Linked DNA regions of Homo sapiens. The protein of the gene in region 1 interacts with the protein of each later gene in a biochemical or structural test. Each region holds a gene or a part of one and is shown on either strand. Other genes may lie near its edges.

Region 1 (7,190 bases):
AGCGGTGAAAATGGGGCCCAGTGGGAGGGCATTTTACTAGGGAGAGAGTTGGAATGAGCCCTGGGGGAACAAGGGTGAATACAGAATGGGGGCAGGCTAAGCTTCCATGAGAACTAAGAGGTAGGCAGTTTGTCATCACTGATCTGTCCTCAGAGGCTACATTAGCCAGGCTCTCAAGAAAATTGGGACATGTCACCTTTGTGGCCCTAAGGTAGAATCTTGGTGTGGGTCACTCTTTCATGTGCCCTCCACTGGGAACCAAAGGTCTGAGGTCAGTGATAGATTGCCCATTGGGTTGAGGGCTGGAGTTAGGATCAGGGTTTACCTGAAGGTGTCAGCTCCAGCATTCACATTAAGAGCCTTTAAACTGTTTATACCAGGGGAGAAATTGAAACCCTCTGCATTGTGGCAGCCTGGAGCCTCGCTCAGGAGAAAATGTTAGACTCTCTGCTCTGGGCAGAAACTTCTTTAGAATTTTGACAATATCAACATTTTAATGGTATCTTAGCCCTGTTGTTCTTATAAAAATATACTGAAGGGGAAGGATATGATTTTGTGGGATCAGAAGCTCCTGCCAAAGTCACTGAACCCACACTAGGACCAAAGCGTTTACCCCAGTGGCAAGGCCATGAAAGGCCATGCTACCCAATGTCAGTGCCCAGTGACAGGGAGGAGGATGTCTTGTGCCCCTTGGACAATTACTGTTATGGTCATGCTTGGGGAAGAGAATCAAAGAAAGATGGCTTTGCAAGCATGAAATGGGAGAAAGACAGTGCAGAAGGTGGGGCCAAAGACAGGATACGATTATTGTTGCTTCTTTGCTGTGTTTGCCAGAGAAAAAGCAAACCTTAGGGATAAAAACATTGTCAATAGTTCTGATGAGGTTGAGTAGTTACAATGAAGATAAGAAAGAGGGAAGAGGAAGAGGTAGAAGAGGAAAAGAAGAGGAGAAGGAAGTAGAAAGAGGAAGGGAGAAGGGAAAAGAAGAGGAGGAGGAAGAAGAAGAGAAGGAGAGGAAGAAGAGAAGGAGGAGGAATGGGCAAGGGGAAGGCAGATGATGACAGCAGCTCTCACTTACTGAGGGTGTCCTTGGTGGCAGGCACAGAACTTCATAGTATGTACTTCATACATCTATGTATGTACTTCACAGATGTACTTCATACACTTTGTCACTTAATCTACACAACAGCTATACAAGAGAGAAACTAGTCTCACCTTACAGATGAGGACATTGTTGCTTAGAGAACAAAAGTTACCCAAGATCACACAACTGCAAATCACAGAGTTGGGACTTAACCCCAAGCTTGCCTGGCTTCAGAGCCATCCGCTGTTCGAAATCATGCTGTTGTCTATGCCAGTGGCTTTCACACTTTTTTTGACTATGACTTATAGTAAAAAAAATGCATTTTCCATCATGAGCCAGTTTGCATATATATGTATATGTACATACATACAGTACAACTAAAACAAAAGTTTCATAAAAATTTTCCCTTGCTATATCCAATGCATATTAATTTTTGAAAATGTTACTCTATGCTCTTTCATTTTTTTCCCTAATGAGAGTTGCACACTAAGTTGATTTCACAACCTGTATTTTGTTTTCTTTTTTCTTTCTTTCTTTTTTTTTTTTTTTTTTTTTGGAGGCAGGGTCTCACTTATCTTGCCCAGGCTAGAGTGCAGTGGCATGATCATGGCTCACTGCAGCCTCAACCTTCTGGGCTCAAGTGATTCTCCCACCTTAATCTGCTTAGTAGCTAGGACTTACAGGTGTATGTCACCATGCCTGGCTAATTTTTTTATTTTTATTTTTGTACAGATGGGGTCTCACTTTGTTGCTCAGGATGGCCTTAAACTCCTGTCCTCAAGTGATCCTCCCGCCTCAGCCCCCTAAGTGCTGGGATTACAGGCATGGGCCACACACCCGGCCTTCAACTTGTAAAAACATTTTCTGTTCTCTGCTCTATGGCAGTTGATTAGAAGTGTCCTTGAACTCCTGCTTGATCTTAGTGGATGCTGGGCAGCATCTCGCTTCTGAGGCATGCAGCTAATTGTGTACTCTGGACCATCCCTCTGGCAAGAGGACATCATTAATAAAATATTTCAGAAATTACAAATATCTGACAAAGCCATTTGCTTGGAAAAGAGTCAGTCCAGGAAACCATCCAGAATATATAATCACTCATCTCAGGCACTGACTGCTAATATTTTAGGCAATTGATGTATGCTTTAGCAAAAGAAACTATTTTCTCTGTTTTCAGAACCTAAAGAAGTCATCTGTTCTGAAAGGCTACACACAGTCGCCATCTAACAATAAATGGTAAAAGAAAAGAAACATGCAAGGTGTTGTGGTGACTCTATCAATCCACCCTCCAGAGTAGTGCTGTCTTTCTCAATTTGGGGTGAATACAACCAGGATCTGAAATTAGATTGCTTTTCAGAGGAGCATGTACATCTCCACCCTGGTTTGGGATTTCAGGGATGATTTTGTTTCAGCAGCTAGGGGCAGTGGCAGGTTGGTTGAATCACATTTAGGTCATGGAAAGTGAAGTCTGATCAGGTGGCTCAGCTCGAGTCAGCCCTGATGGGCTGTGGACTCGGTGACTTCACTCCAAGCAATGTGCACGCTAATTGAGAAAACATGTTCCTGTGATGGCCTCATGCAAAAATCCAGATTTACGAATTTTTTTTATTCCTAAGAATTCCTTAAATATTTGCCGTGCGTGTCTATACAGCCTCCTGGAGTACTTCTCCTTACTGAGTAGGGTTGTGATTTCTGCTGTGGCCCAGGTCAGGCTTTTAAAGGGTGGGATTCTGACAAAGGGCAACTGGGCAAGCAGCCACAGGCCTCGGGGAGAAGCAAGAAGAGGGCAGCAGAGGAGAAAAATAACCCAGACCTCCTGTGCTTTTCCTGGGGCAGAAAAAGCAATTCAAAATCCTTGAAAAGCAATTGTCTGCAATGTCAATGAGGGGGTCCACATCGGGAAGGGGCCTCAGCTTACTGGGCATTGGCTATATTCCAGACTCTGAGGTAAGAACTTTCCAGCACTCTCTCCTTTCCCCTTCACAATTGCCCTCAAAAATCAGTTGGCATCATGATTCCCTTTTACAGATGAAGAAACTGAGGCTTACAGGGGTTAAGTAATGTGCTCACAGAGCTAATGAGAAGTGAACTTGGACCTAAATCCAGTTCTATCTGTGTGCCAGGACTCCTGTAAAATCCTACCTGCCTATGGGACAGCCCCTCACTGCCCTCCGAGGAGCCTCCCTGAAAGCCTTCTTGACATCCAGACCTGTCCCTCTTGGAGGTCATATATTCACAGAATTAGTACTTCCACTAGTTCCAGTTTTGATACTGCTTGCAATTGCTCCATGTGTTAATTCACATAAGAAGATTAAAAAGCCTGCAGACAAATTTTGTTTGGTCTGTACCCATGTGTGGAAAGTGAAGAAATTTCAGAGTTTTGGCTTTTCAGTCTCAAAGTTTTGGCTTTTCTTGAAAAGTTCTTGAAGAGATCTGTATTGGACCTATAATCCTTTACAGCAATGGTTGGCCTGTCCCTTAACAATGAGGCATAGCCTCTCTAGTTTTTCACAGCCCCAGCAATCTCTGGCCTCAGCTCATTTATATTCTCTCATGAGCCACTAAGCCTTTTAGTTATGACTCCTGAGCAAGCTCCTTGGGGCAGGATCATGATTTATATTTATTTTGAGTCCCCAGAGTGCCCAGTGTCCCAGGTAGCATATTAATAAGGATGCTAATTGAGAGAAGAAAATCTATCCAGTAGCCTCATACATGGTGGGCCCCCTCCCCTGTGGGGCGAGGACAATCTTCCCCTTTAACCACAGGTTCTATGTAATTCAGCAACAGCTGCTTAACCCTTGGCTCTTGGTCTGGGAGAGCAGAAATGCCCCACTGCCATAGCAAAATTCACTTTCTCTTTCTTTTCTTGTAAACTTGAAGAATTCCTAAGACATTTAAAATCCTAAAGACACAGAGGAGTTGTTACGTGGAGTAAGGAAGCAAAACATTCTTAAAGCTGCAAGCAAACATGGTCATTCTCAAGAAATGCCTTATTTAGAGAGCATTGCATAACATTTCTGAAATAAGAGTCTGAGGAGAAGTTTGCCTCTGAAAGAAAATTACAGGAGAACCTCCGTGAGTCTTCTCTTACCCAGACATTACAAGGCGAAGATAAATCGCAAGATGAAATGTTTGGTTAAAATTCTATCAAAATGAGAATGTTAACTACAGAAGGTCAAAATATCAGTGAGTAAATTCCTAGAGAAGTCTTCAATGCAACCAAAAAGATTTCTCCTCCCAAAACAGAAAAGCTATATATGCACAGATACATTAAAAACATACAAAAAAGATGTTATCCTACCTGAAATTAAAAAAAAACAACTATGAAGTGGGGGCTCCCCTCAGATCAGCCCTTCCAAGGGAGAACGTGAGGGGAGGAAGCTCATGTTCGTTGGTGCCCCCCTCATGCCAGGCCTGTGCTGCTGTTTTGCCTATGCCTTCCCACTTAATGTGCACAACAGCCAGATGACAGCATAGCTACTACTAATATCTTTGTCTTACAGATGAGAAAACTTAGGGACAGGAGAGGCCCTCCTATGTCTCCACTTTCCTGGAGTACCCCGTCCTTCCCCCTGCTTATCTAGTCCAGCACCTCTCAGGCAGCTAGAAACAGTGTGACTTCTTTTTCTGAAAGTGTTCTCCATAATCCAAAGGGAGCCTGTCCCACTTGGCATCACTCATACACAATGGGGGTTCAATACATATCCATAGTGATGAGGCAGTACCTCAATCGTTGACCTCTCAGCCAGGTCTGCTCAGATCCAAAAATGGGTTGGCATTTCACTAGACTGAGCAAGTGAGACATGCAAGTCACTCCATTACTAATGAGGGTTGTAATCCATCTGTAATGATGAAGAACTGAAGTCAGGACAGTCTCCCCCACCCCCTAACCTGGGCAAGGGCTGAGCTCTTGAGACCATCCTCCCTGGGCTCACTTAGCAACTGCACACAGAGGGGAGGTGACCTATACCACCAACTCTGACTACTGAAGGAGCAGCCAAAGGAAATGGGAAAATCAGCCCATCTGTACTGACAACAAATACTTCGTGGTTATTGGGAAACTGTTCCTGTAGTAGTGGATTGAAATTGCCCAATGTGGAAGGGCTTCTGTGTGAAACTTGGGTGGTTCATTCCCACTGATTTCATAGCCAGCTTCTTTCATTCGCAGGGCTCTCCACCTGCAGAAGCCACCACAGGCGGTGCCAAAAGTGCCAAAACATCTCAATCTGCTTAGCCCAGTGGTGGATTTTCAGGGAAATCCTGACTGTCTGACTCTGACTAATAGTACTACTAAAAAAAAAAAAAAAAAAAAAAAGACTTCCCGCACGTGAATGCGTTGGCTACAGTCTTAGGCAATTCAAAAGCATTGTTGCTAGTTCCACCTGACAGATTTCATCATCAGATCAACCTCATTTGGGGAGGGAGCTCCTTAAGACTTTCTTTCTTTCTCTTTCTTTCTTTCTTTCTTTCTTTCTTTCTTTCTTTCTTTCTTTCTTTCTTTCTTTCTTTTCTTTCTTTCCTTCTTTCTTTCTTTCTTCCTTCCTCCCTCCCCCCTCTCTCTCTTTCTTCATTCCTTCCTTTCTTTTCTTTCTTTCTTTCTCTTTTTCTTTCTTTCTCTCTTCTCTCTCTCTTTCTTTTCTTTTCTTTCTTTTTTTTCCCTCATTTGAAATCAGCGCCAAGCTCTGCAGTTCCTTTTCACTCCTACTTGTAATGAGTTGGGCATGAGTAGAAAGCATGTGTTCCTATAATACCCTCCTACCCTCTGAAGACATTATTCATTTTAACCCTAGGTACTATAAATAAACAAATAGTTCTATTTTCTGTCCCCCAATGAGACCTTGAAGCAGAGGTGAGAATAATGAGCTATTCTACTTGAGAATAAACCCAGTGCCACAAGCACCATCCCTCGAGTGTAGTGTTGCTAGCCTACTTTTTTTCAAGGAAATGTCACGTTATCAATTCTCATTTATTTTCACAGCTTGGGCACAGTTGTATTAATTCGATGTCAATGTGCACTCATGTTGTATTAAGTGCGGTCAGTGTTGGGGGCTTCTGCTTCAGGGAAGGAACCTCCTGATGCCAGAGTGTGATCCACTTAGCAAAGGAGGGAAGGATTTCCTCCCAGTGCTGCAGACTCCACAGGCATGCAGTCTGCCTGTGTTTTTAATAACATATGGCAGAGTAGGAAGCTGCCATGCTCTAATAGCACCTGTCCCTTCACCTTACTCTTTCTGATTTTCTTTTCCCATGGGTCATTTGTAGTCCACTTCACTCACAAAAGGCAAAGGATGACACTTGGTGGGACTACAGCACTGAGGTCCCTGCCGATGGTGGCCTAGAGTCTGATTTGCTGGCTCTTGGAGGATGAAGCCCAGGAATTGACTTCTGGAGCCCCAGTTTGATGATTAACCACAGAAACCCCAACAATAGGGCCCTTATTGGTAATTTCCAAAAGACTTCTCAACTGGGAGCAGCATTATCTTTGAATACACTTAGCCCTTTATGAGGGGCATTTGAGGTTGTCACTATGACTTCTGACATTTAGGAGGTGAGGCAGGAATACTAAACTATCTGCACTGTGCAGATTGGTCACACTTAACCAAGAATTGTCCCAAAATGCTGACAGCTCCATTCAGAAACAATATAAATCCAATATACTTGCCTAATGAGTTGGGAAAGTGAGGCCTGAGAAGCTTAGCGACTTGCTCAAGGTCACAAAGCTACTTCCCTTCCTTTCTCACAAGTGAGGAAACTGTAACAGGAAGTTTACCCAAAATATAGGAGAAGAATATCAAGGGATCATCCTAACATTTTAATCTGATTCCTACTGTGTCCTAGTCTGAGGCCTCAAAAGCATGTAAAGTAGCCCAGAGAGGAGCAATGAAAACATCACGAACCACCAGAAAGTCTTCTCCATTGCATGTTTTCATTCTTCTGGTCTTCACTAAACTTTGTGGCTGAAGGTTTATTCTCCTCGGCTCAAATAGTGACGTTTCTATGCTTCTGCACAGCCTAATAAAAGACCGAGGACCCCAAAGCCTCAGTTTCTCCATTCACATATCAGCCTCAGGATCATCCTGGCCTTACTGCTATTTGGAGTTAGGATCTT
Region 2 (7,000 bases), on another chromosome or scaffold:
TAGCAGAGAACTAGTGCATTCAACATTCTACCTGTGGGGCAGGAGGGGCTCCACAGGCAAGGTGTCTTGTGGTGTCCCCACCTACATCTACCCAGCTTGCCTGTCATGCAAGGAGCTTACACTTAAATGCCACCTTTGGTTAAACCCTCAAAGAAACAGGAAGGTAGAGGACTCCACAGAAAACAGTTCCAAGGGTACCCTTTGCTCATCTCTGCCAAAGAAACCACAAAGACCTTCCTGGGGCACACAGGGACCCTGGTCTGTATATGTGACTTGGGAGTTATGCACCAATTATCATTCTTTTCTTAAAACAACCATAAGACACATTTTAAATGCTTTTGGGAAGCTTGTCATTCAAAAGAGTTACTCCAGTTAACTCACTTTAAGCAAGAAATAATTTTAAGCAACAAATAATCTTTTACCAATTTAACAGTTTTATAAAGTTGGGGTTTTATGTATCAGGATATGCTGTATTTTCAATCTTGAATAATAATAATAATCTTGGGCCAGGCACGATGGTTAAGGCCTGTAATCCCAGCACTTTGAGAGACTGAAGTGGGAGGATCACTTGAGGCTAGGAGGTCAAGTCCAGCCTGGGGAAACATCCTATCTCTACAAAAGATTAAAAAAAAATTCACCTGTCATGGTAGCATGTGCCTGCAGTCCTAGCTGAGGACTAGCTGAGGCAGGAAGATCACTTGAGCCCAGGAGTTTGAGGCTGCAGTGAGCTATGATTGAGCCACTGTACTCCCATCTGGGTGACAGAGCAAGATCCTGTCTCTAAAAATATTTTTTTAAATAAAAACATTAAAATAAATAAAAATAAACTTGGATATTAATAACGATAATGATGATGATAATTGCCAACGTTACAGGCCAAGCAGACGAGGAGTCTGGCACAGGATGGGCCCCCACGGTTGTAGAATCAGTGAGAAAAGCCTTACAGACTGAAAGAAGAATACTTCCAAAAAAATCCGAATCCTACGGTGATTTTTTTTTTTTGAGACAGAGTCTCGCTCTGTTGCCCAGGCTGGAGTGCAATGGCACGATCTTGGCTCACTGCAACCTCCACCTCCCAGGTTCAAGCGATTCTTCTGCCTCAGCCTCCCGAGTAGCTGAGACTACAGGTGCCCACCACCATGCCAGGCTAATTTTTGTATTTTTTAGTAGAGATGGGGTTTCACCATGTTGGCCAGGCTGGTCTTGAATTCCTGACCTTGTGATATGCCCACCTCAGCCTCCCAAAGTGCTGGGATTACAGGCGTGAGCCACTGCGCCCGGCTCCTACAGTGATTTTAAAAATCAGATCCTACATTTCAAATGAAAACTTGTTAAGGTCAAAACAGTAAAACCTCAAATTCCCTTGTCTGGGGCCAGATCTTGAGGTCAAAAGGAAAATAAACACGACTGCAGGCCCAGGCAAACCACAAGGCTGGCGCTGCTCCACATCCTTCGGGAGGCCTGGAGCCATGTGGGCTCCACTCCCCAAGGGAGGCTGTAGCTGGCTTCAGGGCAACTGAAGCTCTGGGAGCAGCTGGGGCCCCATCTGGCTTCCAGGTCAACTTTGTTCTAAGCTTTTCTCTGCACCTGGAAGTGCTCCTGGTTTCTGCTGAAAGGGCACATGGAGAATGAGCCTTGAAGGCTTCATATGACACCCTACAGCTTTCAGCTCTCTTGCCTGCGGCTCTACTGGCCTGGCTGGCCCATGGGGACAGTAGTCACTGGGACATGTTCCTTGGCAAAGGGTCACCACTGGCTGCCGGGATAGAAAAGCAGAAGAACCAGGCTGCAGAGCTGTGCATGATTAAGTGCAAATAACTGAAGTGCAAGCAGCAGCCATCTGGGTTGAGGATAAAGGAAACATCAGAGTGGCTTACAGCCACCAGTGCTGTCACCAGGGCTCTATGGACAGTGGCAAGTATGGCACAGGCAATAAAACTGTCTGCAGCACCATTTTTGAAGAATACAAACAGGACAGGTACATATGCAGAGGCATAGTCCTCCAGCCTGGCCTGCGGACACATTTCAGGAAGGTACTTCTCCAGACGTGGGGTTTTCCAGCCTCCCTTATGGAATCAGAGGATGGCCAGTGGTGCTCTAAGTCAGGCCTGGTCCTCCTCCAACACTGTCCTTTATAAAGGGAGAGGTACAAAGGGAGAAGAAAGCACTGCAGTGTGAGTCCAACTTGCCCCAAACCAGTTTCCCTCCAGAGCAAACCAGAGAAACCAGAACTATGCACAGCTCTCTTCAGGTGTGTGAGGGCTGTAACGGCTACAGATTGAAAATGGAAAAACATCCCCTGATGCCTGCATCCTCTCAGGTCAGTGTGTTACCTCTGTGCCTATTTAAAAATAACCACAGAATGACTTTTCTAAGGTTATTCATTCACACGTGGATAGGTTTGTACAGATTAACACATTTAGTCTTTCTAAAGAAAAATAATTGGAATCTCTGAGGCTAACATGCATATTTAGTTTTATCTTCACATGTAATTATTTTTACAGCAACTTGTTGGAAGTGGCCTCTCAGCAGCTCTCACCTTAAAATAAATCATAGGAAATTTGTATGATTCTTCAAGAGCCACCGATGCACTGGTTGAGGTGGTTTTTTAATGAACCACCTGTGATAAACTCATAATAGCAAAGTGACCTGAGGTTCAAAAGTTGGACCAAAACAAACCGTCATTTAAACTAGGACTCATGGGTCAAATCTGGCCCTCTGCCTGTTTTTATAAAGTTTTACTGGATCACAGCCATGCCCATTTATTTGAGTGTTGTCTATGGCTGCTTTCACAATACAATGGCAGAGTTGAACAGTTGCAAGAGACTGTAGGGCCTGCAAAGCCTGAAATATTTACCACTGGCCCTTTACAGAAAAGGTTAGCCAACCTTCATCCAAAGCGAGGTCCCTAGACTGCAGGACTGGCATCACCTGGGTGCTTGTGGCAACTGGAGAGCCTCAGACTGCACCCCAAAGGAATCTGTGTTTGAACAAGATCTCCAGGTGATTCTGATGCAAGCTAAAGCATGAGAAACTTAAATGGCCAAACAAAATCCCTGGGGAATGTGTTAAAAATGAAGATGCCGATTTATTAAGTCTGGGGTGGAGCCCAGGATTCTGCATTTCTAAGAAACTCTCAGGTGATGCTGATGCTGCTGGTCCTCGGACCACACTTTGAGTAGCAAGGGTCTGGTATTTTACCCTGGCATTATCTACCAGCAAAATTACCAATGGCACTTGCTGGAAAAGTTTCAAAAGGGGCAGCCAGACTATTACTAAACAGTTCAACAACAACAACTACAACAACAGATGTTGGTGAGGATGCAAAGAAAAGGGAACACTTATACACTGTTGATGGGAAGATAAATTAGTACAATCAAAAAAGCAGTATCGAGATTTCTCAAAGAACTAAAAATAGAACTGCCATTCCATCCAGCAATCACACTAATGGGTATATACCCAAAGGGAAAGAAGTATTGTATAAAAAATATACCTGCACTGGTAAGTTTATTGCAGCACTATTCACAACAGCAAAGATAGGGAATCAACTTAAGTGTCCATGAATGGATGACTGGTTATAGAAAATGTGGTATATATATATATATACACACACACACACACCATGGAATATTACTCAGCCATAAAAAAGAATTAAATTATGTCTTTTGCAGCAACATGGATGGAAATGAAGTCCATTTCCCTAAGTGAAATAACTCATAAGTAGTCAACTACTGCATGTTCTCACTTATAAGTGGGAGCTAAGTAATGGGTACCCATAGGCATAAAGAGTGGAATTAACAGACATTGGAGACTCCAAAATGTGGGAGGGGGGTGAGGGTTGAAAAGTTACCTGTTGGGTACCATGTTCACTATTGGGTACACTAAAAGCCCAGATTTCATCACGATACAATATATTCATATAAGAAGTCTGCACTTGTACCCCCTAAATACATAAAAATAAAAACAGTCTCTTGTAGACAGCCAAAAGGGGGGGCAGCCAGATTGTCATGAGGACACCAATTCAAATGCTTTCCTTTTTCCTTTTTTTTACCCAAAATCAGATGTCAACAATTCAAATGCTTCTAAATGCATCCACAAGTGCGGTTCATTAGGGCTTACCTTTTTCAGTATTTCTGTGTTCAGCAGCATGTAAATGTCTATAGTACGACTTTCTTCTTTAGCAAGAGCACTAAAGTTACAGTGTGCTGTTAGGCAAGAAATTCCTGGTTTTTCACAGTCCTGAGAAGAAAAGTCAGAAAAATTTCCAATGGAATTAAGAACAAAGACAAATCCACAACAATTTACAGAGTAGTGGGCTCCATGAACTTGGTGACTAAGGCAATTCCAGGCAGAGGAAATCCACAAGAAGATGCAATCGTTCTTTCTCGCCACCAGAGGGCATTCAAGGGATTTCCCACCCAGTGGGAACCAGAGCATGCCTTTAAGTCAAGCAACTGGGAGAAAACAGCTCACTAATTTATCCTACCAAGAATTGGATGAATTCACAAAGAGAAATAATTGTTTTTTTTTTTAAACCCACAAACTTAAATTTTGCATTCTGAAAGCATTCTTATGAGTTTTGAACACAGACACGTTTCCTACATTATGTGACTTCCACCTGTGTAGTGGCAAATATACTTTCATGCCTATTTATTAGGTAGGTGAATAAGAGGGCTAAGAAGTCATGTGACACTTCCTCAAGAAAACACAAAAGTTACAATAGAGACGTAAATCTCGGCTGGGCGCAGTGGCTCACGCCTGTAATCCCAGCACTTCGGGAGGCTGAGGTAGGGGGGTCACCTGAGATCAGGAGTTCAAGACCAGTTTGGCCAACATGGTGAAACCCTGTCTCTACAAAAAATACAGAAGTTAGCCAGGCATAGTGGTGGCCGCCTGTAGTCCCAGCTGCTGGGGAGGCTGAGGCGGGAGAACTGCATGAACCCGAGAGGCAGAAGCTGCAGTGAGCCGAGATCATGCCACTGCACTCCACCCTGGGCGACAGAGCAAGACTCCATCTCAAAACAAACAAACAAACAAAAAACCAAAAACATAAATCCCAAATTTAAGTTACAAAAGTTTTCTTTTTTATATGATAGGTTCCAAAATGCGTATACATACCTTGATGATGTTTCATCTATACGGCAAAATTTTCAGCCAGACAGAGTCGTAACTATAAAATCACTAGGTATCACTACATCTAACAAGTCTAAGGGCTTTCAACAATATCACCCTCACTATGTAAGTAAAAAAAAAAAAAAAAAAAAAAAACCCAACCTTTCAAGTGGCAAACAGTCACCCTTCTCCAACAGGAGAAAAGAATGAGAAAGGAAATGATAAAGGTGAGATGTGCCAGGGCTGAAATAAGGAGCTTAGAGAAATGTAACCAAAGATAAAAAAAAGGAGGCTTTGGAAAGCATTGTCATTCCATCTTCAATACCTGCACTTTTTAAAAATGGAGGTGTAACAAATATAGTAAATAGAACAAATCTGAAGTGTGTGTCTTTATAATTTTTTTTTTTTTTTGAGACAGAGTCTTGCTCTGTTGCCCAGGCTGGAGTACAGTGGCACGATCTTGGCTCACTGCAACCTCTGCCTCCCTGATTCAACCGATTCTCCTGCCTCAGCCTCCCTAGTAGCTGGGATTACAGGCGCCCACTACCACATCCAGCTAATTTTTGTATTTTTAGTAGATACAGGGTTTCACCATGTTGGCCAGGCTGGTCTCAAACTCCTGACCTCAGGTGATCCACCCCCTCAGCCTCCCTAAGTGCTGGTATTACAGGCATGAGCCACCGTGCCCGGCCTGTCTTTAAAAATTTTTACATGTGTTTATACCTGGAGGACTACCACCCTGATTAGGATGTAGGACATTTCCAGCATCTAAGCAGGCTCCCTCATGCCCCATCCCATCCACATTCCTCTGAAAGTAACCACCTTCTTGACCTCTATCATCATGATTAGTTTTTGCTATTTCTGAACTTCGTATAAGTGAAATATTACAATATGTGGCTTTTGTCTCTAGCTTCTTCCACTCAATATATTCTGTCTGTGAGATTCATTCATTAGCAGTAGTTTGTTATTTTTCATTACTGTGTAATATTCCAGTGTATGGATATACCACAATTGCTTACTTATTCTCCTATTGATGGATATCTGCATTGTTCTCAGCTTTCAGCTATTTTAACATTTCTGTGAGCATCCTTTTTCATGTCTTTTCTGGGAAGCACAAGTACTCATTTTTCTTGGGGATATACTCAAGAGTAGAATGGCTGTGTCATAGGATACACACGTTTTGTTTTAGTAGATATTATCAAACAGTTTCCCAAAATGTTTGCACAAGAATAATCACTCTTGTTTAGACTCATTCTAGTGGAAGAAACATTTTACTTTGTGCTTGGTGGGTTGCAAAGATTTATCCCTTTTCCAGGTAATAGGATTTGGAATGTAAATTTAACATTTTGATTGAAACCTCAGACTGAAAATTAGGAGTTGACCACAGTCTGTGCCTTTGTAAGTCAAATTGATTAAAACCAGATTTAGGAAATAATAAATATCAAATAGAAAACTGGTGTCTTCCGAGTGAGGACCACCCGTGTTACCCCAACCACTAAACAAATCCTTACCAAGACTTTTCTTCCAGACTTTGTGAAAAAAGCAAATATTGTGTGGAAGATATTTTCTTGTTCTTGAGGGATGATGCAGGGAGTTGGGTTTTTCTGGAAAGAGCAGTTTCCCTTCTCTTGGCCCACCTGCAAATGAAAAGAGGCCTGTCAGAGGAGTCATTCTCAAGAATGAATCATGATGCTGGAGCCTCTTATTGTAGAGGCAGGAGTGGTAGAACCCCAATTCACCTTTCCTCCTTGTCCATTTTGAAGTGGAGAACAATGGCTGAAAAGCTGAAAGGCAGAAGTTGTAGCATCAACAGGGCCAAATAATAGAAAATGTGGATCTTAGGTCCCCCAATAATTGATGAGATGGCATATAACATGCAAATGAGATG
Region 3 (3,216 bases), on another chromosome or scaffold:
CCCCTGGGGGCTAATTATTGCCCAAAGTAGCTGCAATTAGCCTCTTGCCCTGGACTTCTGGGGAACAAGTAGTTAAGTGTGTACCCTAATTAGTGGCCCATAGCCCAGCTCCGGGACACTTGCTGTAGTTGTCTAGAACTGAGAAGCCCTATCTCCTCCTCTGCCATGATTAATTGCTGGGGGGGAAGAGAGGAGGGATGGGGATAGGGATTGGGCTGGAGTGACAGGAGGAAGGGACAACGAGTCCCCCCAGGTGCCTTCACTTCCTGGTGCCCCACCCAGGACCTTGTCTTGGCCCCAGGCCTCCAGATGGGGAGGAGCACTGCCTCGGCCCTTCTTGGGTCTCACCCCAGTGCCCACTGTTGGGGAAAGGAGTTCAGGGGTAGGACCTGACTCTCCTCTGGTTTCTCTGCAGCCCTCAAGGGTGACGGAGGCCTCTACAGCAGCCTGCCCCCAGCCAAGCGGGAGGAGGTGGAGAAGCTTCTCAACGGCTCTGCGGGGGACACCTGGCGGCACCTGGCGGGCGAGCTGGGCTACCAGCCCGAGCACATAGACTCCTTTACCCATGAGGCCTGCCCCGTTCGCGCCCTGCTTGCAAGCTGGGCCACCCAGGACAGCGCCACACTGGACGCCCTCCTGGCCGCCCTGCGCCGCATCCAGCGAGCCGACCTCGTGGAGAGTCTGTGCAGTGAGTCCACTGCCACATCCCCGGTGTGAGCCCAACCGGGGAGCCCCCGCCCCGCCCCACATTCCGACAACCGATGCTCCAGCCAACCCCTGTGGAGCCCGCACCCCCACCCTTTGGGGGGGGCCCGCCTGGCAGAACTGAGCTCCTCTGGGCAGGACCTCAGAGTCCAGGCCCCAAAACCACAGCCCTGTCAGTGCAGCCCGTGTGGCCCCTTCACTTCTGACCACACTTCCTGTCCAGAGAGAGAAGTGCCCCTGCTGCCTCCCCAACCCTGCCCCTGCCCCGTCACCATCTCAGGCCACCTGCCCCCTTCTCCCACACTGCTAGGTGGGCCAGCCCCTCCCACCACAGCAGGTGTCATATATGGGGGGCCAACACCAGGGATGGTACTAGGGGGAAGTGACAAGGCCCCAGAGACTCAGAGGGAGGAATCGAGGAACCAGAGCCATGGACTCTACACTGTGAACTTGGGGAACAAGGGTGGCATCCCAGTGGCCTCAACCCTCCCTCAGCCCCTCTTGCCCCCCACCCCAGCCTAAGATGAAGAGGATCGGAGGCTTGTCAGAGCTGGGAGGGGTTTTCGAAGCTCAGCCCACCCCCCTCATTTTGGATATAGGTCAGTGAGGCCCAGGGAGAGGCCATGATTCGCCCAAAGCCAGACAGCAACGGGGAGGCCAAGTGCAGGCTGGCACCGCCTTCTCTAAATGAGGGGCCTCAGGTTTGCCTGAGGGCGAGGGGAGGGTGGCAGGTGACCTTCTGGGAAATGGCTTGAAGCCAAGTCAGCTTTGCCTTCCACGCTGTCTCCAGACCCCCACCCCTTCCCCACTGCCTGCCCACCCGTGGAGATGGGATGCTTGCCTAGGGCCTGGTCCATGATGGAGTCAGGTTTGGGGTTCGTGGAAAGGGTGCTGCTTCCCTCTGCCTGTCCCTCTCAGGCATGCCTGTGTGACATCAGTGGCATGGCTCCAGTCTGCTGCCCTCCATCCCGACATGGACCCGGAGCTAACACTGGCCCCTAGAATCAGCCTAGGGGTCAGGGACCAAGGACCCCTCACCTTGCAACACACAGACACACGCACACACACACACAGGAGGAGAAATCTCACTTTTCTCCATGAGTTTTTTCTCTTGGGCTGAGACTGGATACTGCCCGGGGCAGCTGCCAGAGAAGCATCGGAGGGAATTGAGGTCTGCTCGGCCGTCTTCACTCGCCCCCGGGTTTGGCGGGCCAAGGACTGCCGACCGAGGCTGGAGCTGGCGTCTGTCTTCAAGGGCTTACACGTGGAGGAATGCTCCCCCATCCTCCCCTTCCCTGCAAACATGGGGTTGGCTGGGCCCAGAAGGTTGTGATGAAGAAAAGTGGGCCAGTGTGGGAATGCGGCAAGAAGGAATTGACTTCGACTGTGACCTGTGGGGATTTCTCCCAGCTCTAGACAACCCTGCAAAGGACTGTTTTTTCCTGAGCTTGGCCAGAAGGGGGCCATGAGGCCTCAGTGGACTTTCCACCCCCTCCCTGGCCTGTTCTGTTTTGCCTGAAGTTGGAGTGAGTGTGGCTCCCCTCTATTTAGCATGACAAGCCCCAGGCAGGCTGTGCGCTGACAACCACCGCTCCCCAGCCCAGGGTTCCCCCAGCCCTGTGGAAGGGACTAGGAGCACTGTAGTAAATGGCAATTCTTTGACCTCAACCTGTGATGAGGGGAGGAAACTCACCTGCTGGCCCCTCACCTGGGCACCTGGGGAGTGGGACAGAGTCTGGGTGTATTTATTTTCCTCCCCAGCAGGTGGGGAGGGGGTTTGGGGGCTTGCAAGTATGTTTTAGCATGTGTTTGGTTCTGGGGCCCCTTTTTACTCCCCTTGAGCTGAGATGGAACCCTTTTGGCCCCCGAGCTGGGGGCCATGAGCTCCAGACCCCCAGCAACCCTCCTATCACCTCCCCTCCTTGCCTCCTGTGTAATCATTTCTTGGGCCCTCCTGAAACTTACACACAAAACGTTAAGTGATGAACATTAAATAGCAAAGAAAGAAAAATAGTACAAAGAGATTTTCTGGAAATACACATGGTTTGAATTGTTTGGGATTGGGTGTGTGGCAGGGACCCAGGTATAATTTCCAATTCGGTCAATTCCTGCCCTCTTTTCCCCCACACCAAAAGGGGAAGTTTTAACAGAAATCCAGTAAGTTCCCATGTATCACTATGGGGTGAGGTGGGGAAGGAGAAGGGGCCCTTTGCTCCCAGATCTTGGAGAGGGAAAGTGAAAATGGCCACGCAGGAAGCTAGCCAGCTGTGAACTTGACCAGATGTCAGAAGTGAAACTGACCACAGGCAAGTCAGAGGCTCGCCAGGAGGGCCAGGTCACAACCCCACAGCTCCCAGCCACCCACGTGGCCTGGGAGACACACACACACACATACACACCACAGAGAGAGAGAGAGAGAATCTGGCTCCAGATGGCCTAGCAGGAGGCATTCGGCAGGCCTGGCCTGGAGTTAGGCAGGCAGGCCCCTCCCTTGTAGCTCTCGTGGGCAGG

What was found. The genes of interacting proteins can lie anywhere in the genome.
Region 2: the proteins of NGF (region 1) and ITGA9 form a complex in vitro, tested with the Homo sapiens proteins (one study listed by BioGRID).
Region 3: the proteins of NGF (region 1) and NGFR form a complex in vitro, tested with the Homo sapiens proteins (2 studies listed by BioGRID and IntAct, with this or other methods).

What each region holds. Positions count from the first base shown.
Region 1 is NC_000001.11:115,328,127-115,335,316, forward strand, and holds part of NGF (beta-nerve growth factor precursor), read right to left. Parts: intron 1-7,190. UniProt on the Homo sapiens protein: Nerve growth factor is important for the development and maintenance of the sympathetic and sensory nervous systems.
Region 2 is NC_000003.12:37,777,141-37,784,140, reverse strand, and holds part of ITGA9 (integrin alpha-9 precursor), read right to left. Parts: intron 6,750-7,000; coding exon 6,624-6,749; intron 4,240-6,623; coding exon 4,120-4,239; intron 1-4,119. UniProt on the Homo sapiens protein: Integrin alpha-9/beta-1 (ITGA9:ITGB1) is a receptor for VCAM1, cytotactin and osteopontin. It recognizes the sequence A-E-I-D-G-I-E-L in cytotactin. ITGA9:ITGB1 may play a crucial role in SVEP1/polydom-mediated myoblast cell adhesion.
Region 3 is NC_000017.11:49,512,293-49,515,508, forward strand, and holds the end of NGFR (tumor necrosis factor receptor superfamily member 16 precursor), read left to right. Parts: intron 1-415; coding exon 416-717; 3' UTR 718-2,716; downstream 2,717-3,216. UniProt on the Homo sapiens protein: Low affinity receptor which can bind to NGF, BDNF, NTF3, and NTF4. Forms a heterodimeric receptor with SORCS2 that binds the precursor forms of NGF, BDNF and NTF3 with high affinity, and has much lower affinity for mature NGF and BDNF.